Linked DNA regions of Homo sapiens. The protein of the gene in region 1 interacts with the protein of each later gene in a biochemical or structural test. Each region holds a gene or a part of one and is shown on either strand. Other genes may lie near its edges.

Region 1 (3,651 bases):
TCTCTCACTCTCCTATTCTCCCTGCTCTTACCTCCTCTTCCTCTAGTCTCTTTTCCTCCTCATCTTCCTGCTCCAAGAACAACTTGTCGAGCCGCTGGAGCTGGAAGAGGTGGAACTGGCGCTGCAGCTCCTCAGAGGTGCTCAGGCTCTGCAGCATCAGCTGTGGGAGGCGGTTGGGAAAACAGAGGCCAATCTGCTCTAGCACAGCCCCCTCCAGCCAGCTCGAACCAAAGCTCAGGAGACGGTCCGCCATATAATGCCTGCAGCACACACAGCCCGGGCCAAGCCTCAGTGTGGGTGCCAGCGTGGCCCAGCCTCCCCCTCGAGAATGTAGGTCCCTCTGTCCCTCTGCCTGAGTCACATACCCTACCTCACCTCTTCTTTCCCACTCCCTTTCCACCAATGCATGACCACCTCCACTTTTTTTTTTTTTTTTTGAGACGGAGTCTTGCTCTTGTCACCCAGGCTGAAGTGCAATGACGTGGTCTTGGCTCACTGCAACCTCTGCCTCCCGGGTTCAAGAGATTCACCTGCCTCACCCTCCCGAATAGCTGGGATTACAGGTGCCTGCCACCACGCCACCACACCTGGCTAATTTTTGTATTTTTAGTAGAGAAAGGGTTTCACCATGTTGGTCAGGCTGGTCTTGAACTCCTGACCTCAGGTGATCTGCCTGCCAGAATGCTGGGATTACATGCGTGAGCCACCGCGCCTGGCCAGCCATCTCCACATCTTAATCTCTCCTCTACACAGCCTCTTTTCTCATCTCCCCTATAAGACTCAAATCTTTCCACTCTCTAGATCTAGGCCTCCCATCCCCTATGCCTCCAGACCTGCACTCACTGATAGAAGTGCTCAAAAGTTGTGGCCAGTTCCAGACCAGAAAGGACCATAATGGGTTCCAGGTGCCGCTGAAGCTGCCCCAGCATTTCCACTCCAGGGGCTCCACCAATCAGGCCACCCTGGATCTGTTGGTCAATGTACCTGGCAAACTGCTCACTCATCTGGGGGCAGGGGAAAGGGCATGAGCAAACCATGAATGAGGGAGTGGAGTAGGAGACTGGGGAGCGAAAGGAGGTGAAAGGGCAGAGCAGAAAGAGATGAACTTGGAACACAAGCTTATAGCCCTGTGGGGAGCTGGTGGGACTCACGTGAGCAGCAGTGAGGAAGGACTGCTGCAGCAAGGCGCCAGAGAAGCCACTGCGCAGAGCCAGCATGAAGGCTGCCCGAGGCCCAAACAGCTCGGAGCCTGCTCTCTGCAAGTGCTCATAGAGTTTACAGTAACGAGGCACAAAGTCTGGGGCCCTCCAAGCTGCAGCCAGGAATCTGCTGACCTGAGGAGAAAGGCAAGAAATGACATAAAAGGAGCAGCCCCTCCCCTCTGCAGACTTCTGCTTGCTTCTGCCCACCTGCTCCTGCACCACGCTCAGCCAGCACTGGGTTATGTTCCTCAGGCTGCTGCTTGGAAGCACTGGCGAAGGCGCCGGGCTCCGGTCCCGACCCTTGCTGTTCTTGCTGACTGTAGAGACAGAGGGAGAAGGAAGGGGTTTCATCTCAGCCTCTGGGTGAGTACACCGGTCTTGGGTAGTGATCTCCTGGAAAGGCCAGTAGGTCTCAGGGGCCTGGAAAGGCCGGTAGCAAAGCAGCAAGAGTAAGACCCAGGGAGGAGGGAGCCAGATACACCACTGTCCGCAGAGTCAGCTCCACTGGCCACAGCTGGGACTTACAGGGCCGAGTGGATGGCTCAGGAGAAGGCCCAGGAGGAGGTTCCACATGCACCAGCAAGTGGCAAAGGCGACGAACTCGAGAAGCAAAGGACGCTGCTCGACTCAAGGGGTTCCGAGAGGTCTCTCTCTGTTCTAAGTACTGATCCAGCAGCCATCCCAGGGCACTCACGCCTTCCGCATCTGAAAGAAGACAGGTCAGGAACAGGTCTCCATGGGAGATGGGAGAACAGACAGCTCAGGGCAGAGGAGGGAGAAAGATCAATTGTACAAAAAGGCTTGAGGGGTAGTGGGGCCCTAGTCCTCCCCTCACCAAGGTTTGTTTCAGCTGGAGTCAGGGGAAATGTTAACAGGGTGGGGATGGGGTAGTGGGAAAGATTCAAATACCAGAGTCTCAGGGAGCAGTGCCTGGGGCAGGAAGGAGAGAGGAACACTGAGGTGACAGGCCTTCAGGGATAAAGACAGGAACCAAAAGAACCAAGAGCATTAACTCAGGTGATCCCTGGGAATAAGGACAAGGAACTGGTTAGTGGGGCCAGGTGTCAGCATGGTTACCGGGAGAGGTGATGTTCTGCACCAGGGGGCTGACCAGGGCCTCCCAGCAGGTCTTGCCCAGTGCCTGGGCGGCCTCATCATCAGGGAGGAAGCGGTCAGCAAAATTCTGCTCGTGGCGCAAAACCCTGTTCAGTCTGGGAACAAACAGTGCATGGCGGAGGATTAATGGCACCGATTTCCCAGAGGCCTCCATTCAAGTGCAGATCAGCTCCCAATCACCCCTGTTCGGTCCCTGACCCAACTTTTCCCAATTAACACAAACTTCTCACCTACGTTCACCTTCCCCCTCATGTCCTGGCTGCAGCTTTCCCTTCCGGACTCCCACAGGAGCATCCCTCCTACTTCTCACAGTGTCCTGTTCCCTTACCCATCTTCCCTCCTCAGGCCCCACCCACCTGGGACAGAGCTGGAGGAGGCGCCGGTGGTCCTCTGCTATGTCCCGGCTCCAGGCTTGTGCCCGAATTGTGTAGAAGAGACATGTTCGGCGACACAGCTGCTCCCGGAACAGTGGCCAGAATGTGGGCTTAGGGCCCAGGACCTCCACACCCCGAACCCGGGTGTCAATGCCGCCCTGGAACATGCACAGACTTATCTGTCACCCAAGCCGCTTGAGCCACTAAGTACTACCAAAGCCAAGCCTCCTGCCCTGAGCTCCCTAGAACTGCTCAGGACATCCCCACATCTCTGGGACTCAACAGGTCCTGGGCCATCTCCCAAGCAGATCAAGGAGAAACTTGTGTGCCACCTCCTCCTCCTCAGCCCTGGCTGACACCCTAACACCACCTGCTGGCAGCGCTTTATGCGGATCTGGATGATGGGCCAGAAGCGGTTCAGGTTCTCCAAGAGGATCACCCGGCTGGCAGAGGGCATCACATTCACCTGGTAGGGCAGGGGAGAAGAGGGAGAGAACTGTCACCTCCAGAAACAAGGTTGGAAAAATTGTTGACAGTAACCAAGTCGGTCATGGTGTGTGCCCTTCACTTCTCCCGCAGAGCCTAGGGATGGACGTGGCTCTGCATCCCTAATCCCACTCTCACTGCTTACAAGGCAACACCTTCCCAAGGGGAAGGGATGTCACCATTCCCCAGGGACTAGGTCCTTCCCACAGGCACTGGGACAAAAAGAAGGATGTGGAGCAAGGTGAAGGTGGGCACAAGGGTCCCCACCGTGTTGAGCTCAGTGCCGATGCAGCTGGTGCTGTCACCCCCAAACACCACCACCCTGGCTGGCATGTAGCTTGAGTCCTCACTGGCCACCAGCAAAGTGAGCTGCCTGGGAAAGAAGAAAGGAAACAGTCAAAGCTGGGCCTCTGGACGTGGTGGCTCACATCTGTAATCCCAACACTTTGGGAGGCTGAGGTGGGAGGATCGCT
Region 2 (2,562 bases), on another chromosome or scaffold:
ACTTACTTACTTCCCCAGACCCCGGGCTCGCCTCCACAAAGGAGAAGAGACTGCCCTGGCGGTCCTGGTGGCTTTTCTTAGCATGTGTGGCACTGTTGCCCAGTGTGGGAGTTGGTTTAAATTCTCCTGACTCCAGTTTATAACATCCTTTTAAAAAATTTAAAAACAAACAGCCACACCCCTCCTCCAGTCCTTCTCCTCAGTTCTTGTGTGAAACTCCAGCTGATGTTACCACAGTAACATCAGTTAATTGGGCAAGCCCTGATGTCAGTGTGTGTAACTGACCTCTGGCCTGGCCTGCACAGAGAAGCCCTATAATCACAGGTCTGTGGTGGCCCCGAAATGGGGGGCCTGCTAGTCAGGAGGATGCTGTGCACACTGTGTGTGATGAATCTCGCCAGAAAGGCTCCTGAGGTCCCAGGTTGGCACTTCTCCCTGCAGCCATTGTAGAAGATCTGCTGGTCCTTGCAGGCAAAGCTACAGCCAGAATGTCCGTTTGAAACTCCTAGCTCATCTGTCACCGAGCTTCATCCGAATGTGCCACGGAGCTTGCTCTCCACTTCCTCCGTGCAGTGGCCCTGCCACAGCCCTCCCTCGGCACACTTTGACCCTTTGTAGGATTGGAATTAGCAGGACTCGGCTATTTAAAGCACCAGTCTGGGGTCGCCTGGGCCCCTGCTGACCCCCTCCTCCAGAGCAGCCAGCCCAGCCCGGGAACAAGACGGACTTCCTCTCCCTTCGGACTCACAGCCTTTGCAGAGTCAAGCTCCACTTGAAGCTCACTCAGTAATATCCTTTCAATGTGTTTTATATTGTTTTGACTGCCTTTTTTTGTAGAAATAAAAATTGACCTTAGAATTTATCGTCAGATAAACTTGTAAAGATTTGAATATTAATGTCTTTTCAAGGCAAATGGGATTGTCCCCGCACTAGTAGAGAATCCATGTCGCTCTGACACCCCAAGGAAGCCGACGATCCAAATGCCGTGTGTCACCAACCCCGCTTCTGCCACTGGCGGCTTCCCTTCTTGGCTCTTGGGGGGGACTAGATCCTGTGGAGAAGATGACTTAAACTTTGCTTTTTGTTTTAATTTTAATTCTATAACTTGAGATCTTTCCGGGGCCTACAGGCGTGTAAGACAGCTTGGTCTGGTCTGTGCAGAAGTGGGGAGTGATGGGCAGGTTCGGCAGCCTAACATTGTTCAGGCGCATGGCCCCTGCGGTGTGTACACGAACTCGGCTTCTTTTGTCCTAGGTACGCCAAGGGCAGGTTTCTGGAGACTCCCTTGTGCCCGGGATGGCAAGGGCACCGGGCTGGCGTTTCCACATCTGTCTTCATTAGCAGAAAAGTGATGATGGATTTTATTTCACTCACACTCCAGTTTGTAATAAAATGCCAAATTCTGTCAGCTATCCAAACAAGCCACCATTTGTTCTTGTTGCTTCTCTGGATCCAGAAATGTTGCCATTCTTGGAAACTGTCCCATTGCTTCGTATTTCTGCCAACGTAGCTCTGCCTGCCTGTCAACCCCTCACTGCACTCTGCTCATCACGGGAGGATACCTGTGTGCCGGCAGCCCCTCAGGGACTCTCAGCCCTGGCACTGGCACCCCAGGGTTGGCCCCGTCAGCAGAGGCTTGGCTTTCGAGCCAGTGGGTGTCTCTCCTTTGGGCCTGGGCGGCTTGCTCCTGCCAGCCATGCCTTCAGGGTAGGCTCTGAGCAAGCTGGCGAACAGCCCTGGCTGCTCCAAAACCAAAAAGCTGGGTCCTCTGGAGGAGGGGCGAGCTGTGGAGCAGCCACCCACTGCTGCCCCAAGCTCACTCAGGAATTCACACCCGCCTGGTTTCTTGAAGTGTGCTGGGTCCTTCCCTCTGCTCCCTACTCCCCACCACGGCAGAGAATAGGCTTTCTAAGATGCTGCGATCCCGTTCTGCTGCCCGTAATAAAAATGCTCTCAGACACTGGTTAGTCGTGTGGGTTTCTTCCTTCCTGGGAGCGGGCAGTGCCAGGGGCCTATGCTCTTGGAGATGGGAGGGCTGGCTGGGGCCCAGGTCCTGGGGCTTCTGATCTCTCTCCCCATTCCCAGCCTCTCCAAAAGAGGTACATAGAAGTGTTCCTGCCTCCCTAGAGGGAAGGAGATGAGGTATAATCAGCAAGAAAGCCGGAGACTTCAGACAGTCGGGGCCTGCAGAGGGCGCTCTTGGGCGTCTCGTTGAGGGGACAGGGACTAAAGTGTGGGTGCATCACTTACATGCGTGGGTCATCCTGGAGCCTCCTGGGAGTGTTAACAATCCATGTTTAGAAGAGGCAAACCTGCGGTCCCAAGAGGTCACAGAATTGATAAGGGTGTGCCTGTGGGTGGAGCTGGGCCATGTCCATGAATGGTGCCAGCCAGAAACACTCTGAGTCCCCAGTACAGCCCACTGCCAGGGTGCTGCGGCAGTGGTGCTAACTCAGCAAGGGCTCAGCCAGACCCAGGACTTTTTTGGCTAGGCCTTCCCTGCCTGGAATTTGACACCAGCTGAGACTAGGCCTGCACTGTTCAGCTGGATCTGCAGGTCTT
Region 3 (3,696 bases), on another chromosome or scaffold:
TCCTGAGCTCAAGCAATCCGTCCACTTGCCTTGGCTCCCCAAAGTGCTGGGATTACAGGCGTGAGCCACCAGGCCCTGCCTGGTTTTCAAATTCAGAAATCTTATTATTTAACCCAGAAGTAATCAGCCCAGTAGTAACTTAGGTTTAATTTTTTTTCAGGTTTAAAATTTTTCTCATTTATTTTTTCTGAGACGGAGTTTCGCCCTTTTCGCCCAGGCTGAGTACAGTGGTGCAATCTCACTGCAACCTCCGCCTTCCAGTTGCAAGTGATTCTCCTGCCTCAGCCTCCTGAGTAGCTGGGATTACAGGCACCCGCCACCACGCCTGGCTAATTTTTGTATTTTTAGTGGAGATGGTGTTTCACCATGTTGGCCAGACTGGTCTTGGACTCCTGACCTCGTGATCCACCCACCTTGGCCTCCCAAAGTTCTAGGATTACAGGTGTGAGCCACCACGTCCGGCCAATTTTTCTCATTTCTATGCCTCCTATATTAAGGTCTGTGTTGGCACAGATGAGTAACTGCCATGTTCTAGGTCAGTTATACCCAAGCACTTCTGGTGGTTTAAAATGTGATTCTGTAACTTTTTTATTTTTATTTTTTTGAGATAATTTCACTCTTGTTGCCCAGGCTGGAGTGCAATGGCGTGATCGCTGCTCACCGCAACCTCCGCCTTCCAGGTTCAAGCGATTCTCCTGACTCAGCCTCTCAAGTAGCTGGGATTACAAGCATGCGCCACCATGCCCAGCTTATTTTGTGTTTTTAGTAGAGACAGGGTTTCTCCATGCTGGACAGGCTGGTCTTGAACTCCCGACGTCAGGTGATCTACCTGCCTCGGCCTCCCAAAGTGCTGGGATTACAGGCGTGAGCCACCACGCCTGGCCAATTATGTAATTTTTTAAAAAGGACATTTCTATCAGGGATATATACCTTCAGAAATAAGGAAATAGGGGAAAAAAAGAGCACTATAAACCACATGTTTTCATTTCTAGTGCTTCGCTGTAAGTGGCTAGGTTGGTAGAATCAAAAACAAGGGCCAGATGTATTTAAGGGGTATTCAGATGCCACCTACATGCTTATTTTGTCTAGAACAGTGCTGTCTAATAGAACTTTCTGTGACGATGGATATTTTGTAGACTTTTGCTGTCCAGTGTGGTAGCCACTAACCACATGTGGCTGTTAAGCCCTTGAAATATAGCTAGTGTGACTAGAAAGTATTTTATTTTAAATTTACATAGGCACAAGTGGCTAGTGGCTACTGTATTGACATTCTGGGTCTAGGACTAGAACCAGTGGTCTGTAACAAAAGTACTTTCTCTTTACTCTATTAAATCTAGAATTAGCCGGGCATGGTCGCTCATGCCTGTAATCCCAGCACTTTGGGAGGCCAAGGCAGGCAGATCACTTGAGGTCAGGCGTTTGAGACCAGCCTGGTCAACATGGCGAAACCCTGTCTCTACAAAAAACATAAAAATTAGCCAGGTGTGGTGGTGGGCACCTGTAATCTCAGCTACTTGGGAGGCTGAGGCACAAGAATCACTTGAACTTGGGAGGTGGAGGTTGCAGTGAGCCAAGATTGTGCCACTGCACTCAAGCCTGGGTGACGAGTGAAACTGTCTCCAAAAAAAAAAAAAAATCTAGAATTCTTGGAAGTACATTATATTGCCCTTCAGAATAGATTCCAGTTCCTGTTGTGCTCACCTTTATAATTTTACCATAAGTTTTACCTATTCGTAAGTTGGCAGTTTTAGATAGATAACATTCTGGTGGTAGCTAGGGATTTACCTTTTGTCATCCTTTTCCTGCACTTCTCTTGAATTCCTTTATAGATGTACAGTTTTGCTTTAACCACTGAAGATTGCTGTAAATTATAAAGGGTGTGATAGAATCCACATGGCTGTCAAGAAGGAGATCTTACCAAGGACAGTTGACTGACTAGTCTCAGATTGTTTCATATCATTTATACTTGGGTAAGAGTAAACTAGATAACTGGGCGTCGTGGTGCACACCTGTAGTCCCAGCCACTCTGAGGCAGGAGGACTGCTTGTGCCCAGAAGTTCGAGGCTGCAGTGTAGCTGTGATTGTGCTACTGCACTCCAGCCTGGGCAACAGATAAAGGAAACTCCATCTCTTTTAAAAAAAAAAAAAGTGGTCTGGGTGCAGTAGGTCATGCCTGCAATCCCAGCACTTTGGGAGGCCAAGGCAGGCAGATCACCTGAGGTCAGGAGCTTGAGACCAGCCTGGCCAACATGGTGAAACCCCATCTCTACCAAAAATATAAAAACTAGCTGGGCGTGGTGGCGGCACCTGTAATTGCAGCTATTTGAGAGGCTGAGGCAGGAGAATCGCTTGAACCTGGGAGATGGGGGTTGCAGTGAGCCAAGACCGCCCCATCGCACTCCAGCCTGGGCAACAATAGTGAAACTCCGTCTCAAAAAGAAAAAAAGTTTCCTTAGAATGGAAAATATTCATTCATGAGCTCTTTTGGCAATCCGTCATCAGTATATTCTGAAAACCAATAAGATGTTGCCAAGTTGGGGGCGAGAGCTATGTAATGCAAGGCATATGCCTGATGAAGTATACAAATACACCTGACCAGAAACTTTGTCTCCCACATAAGTCTCTTCTAGGCACTGTCGGGGTACATACTGAGCTGCTGCTTTGGCTGTATTTTCTGTGCCTCAGAATAACCATTGTCCTGGTGTTCATATCCTTAGAGTTCAGTACAAAATGTTGGATATCCATTTAATAGGTTCCAGGTTATCTTAGTTGGAGTTTGGGGTATTTGAAAACGTCATGCCTTCAGGCTATCATTTCCCTCAGAAAGCTAAGTAAATTTACTGCATTCATTTCTCAAAGAGTAAAAGTGCAGGTTGTATGTGTCTATGAACATTTAAACATGTTAAAATGTTAAATTTAACATTTTAAATTTAAACATTTAAATATGTCTGTAACTTGAACAGTGTAGTTTCAGAAAGGACCACTGGGCTAGTGTAATGCAGAAAATGCTGGGTCTAGGATTAGGAGAAAATTGTGTTTAGTGTGTATCAATAAACAGCCCGTGGACCCAATCTGACCAGATGCCTGTTTTTGTAAAGAGAACTTTATTGGGCTTGGTGCAGTGGCTTATGCCTGTAATCCCAGCACTTTGGGAGGACAGGGCAGATGGATCACAAGGTCAGGAGTTTGAGACCAGCCTGACCAACATGGTGAAAGCCCGTCTCTACTAAAATACAAAAATTACCTAGGGGTGGGGGGCGGTGGGCACCTGAAATCCAGCTACTCGGAGGCTGAGGCAGGAGAATCGCTTCAACCTGAGAGGCAGAGGTTGCAGTGAGCCAAGATCACACCACTGCACTCCAGCTTGGGCAACAGAGCAAGACTCCGTCTCAAGAAAAAAAACTTTATTGGATCACAGTCACATTCGTTAGTGTATTGTTTAGGGCTGCTTTGGGCTACAACATTAGAGGTTAGTGGTTGTGACAAAGCCTAAAATATTTAGTGTGGCATTTTACAGAGTTTCTCAGTTCTGTGTTTAGAGCTTTGCTTTATCAATCTGATTAACACAACGTTGTATTTGTGGAGAATGGGAATAAGCACCTCAAAAGATTCACTGAATGATGTGTGAATGCCTGTAACTGGCAAGCACAGAAAAATTTGTTCATATCTATGTCAAATTCCTTGAAAGTCACATAG

Evidence for each region.
Region 2: the proteins of CUL9 (region 1) and UBE2L3 form a complex in vitro, tested with the Homo sapiens proteins (2 studies listed by BioGRID).
Region 3: of the proteins of CUL9 (region 1) and CYCS, one has a biochemical effect on the other in vitro, tested with the Homo sapiens proteins (one study listed by BioGRID).

Annotation. Positions count from the first base shown.
Region 1 is NC_000006.12:43,202,616-43,206,266, reverse strand, and holds part of CUL9 (cullin-9), read right to left. Parts: intron 3,552-3,651; coding exon 3,446-3,551; intron 3,159-3,445; coding exon 3,063-3,158; intron 2,851-3,062; coding exon 2,675-2,850; intron 2,414-2,674; coding exon 2,280-2,413; intron 2,172-2,279; coding exon of another isoform or gene 2,119-2,171; exon of another isoform or gene 1,914-2,118; intron 1,908-1,913; coding exon 1,728-1,907; intron 1,520-1,727; coding exon 1,410-1,519; intron 1,335-1,409; coding exon 1,152-1,334; coding exon of another isoform or gene 1,005-1,151; coding exon 844-1,004; intron 261-843; coding exon 32-260; intron 1-31. UniProt on the Homo sapiens protein: Core component of a Cul9-RING ubiquitin-protein ligase complex composed of CUL9 and RBX1. The CUL9-RBX1 complex mediates ubiquitination and subsequent degradation of BIRC5 and is required to maintain microtubule dynamics and genome integrity.
Region 2 is NC_000022.11:21,622,072-21,624,633, forward strand, and holds the end of UBE2L3 (ubiquitin-conjugating enzyme E2 L3), read left to right. Parts: 3' UTR 1-1,963; downstream 1,964-2,562. UniProt on the Homo sapiens protein: Ubiquitin-conjugating enzyme E2 that specifically acts with HECT-type and RBR family E3 ubiquitin-protein ligases.
Region 3 is NC_000007.14:25,118,031-25,121,726, reverse strand, and holds the end of CYCS (cytochrome c), read left to right. Parts: 3' UTR 1-3,071; downstream 3,072-3,696. UniProt on the Homo sapiens protein: Electron carrier protein. The oxidized form of the cytochrome c heme group can accept an electron from the heme group of the cytochrome c1 subunit of cytochrome reductase.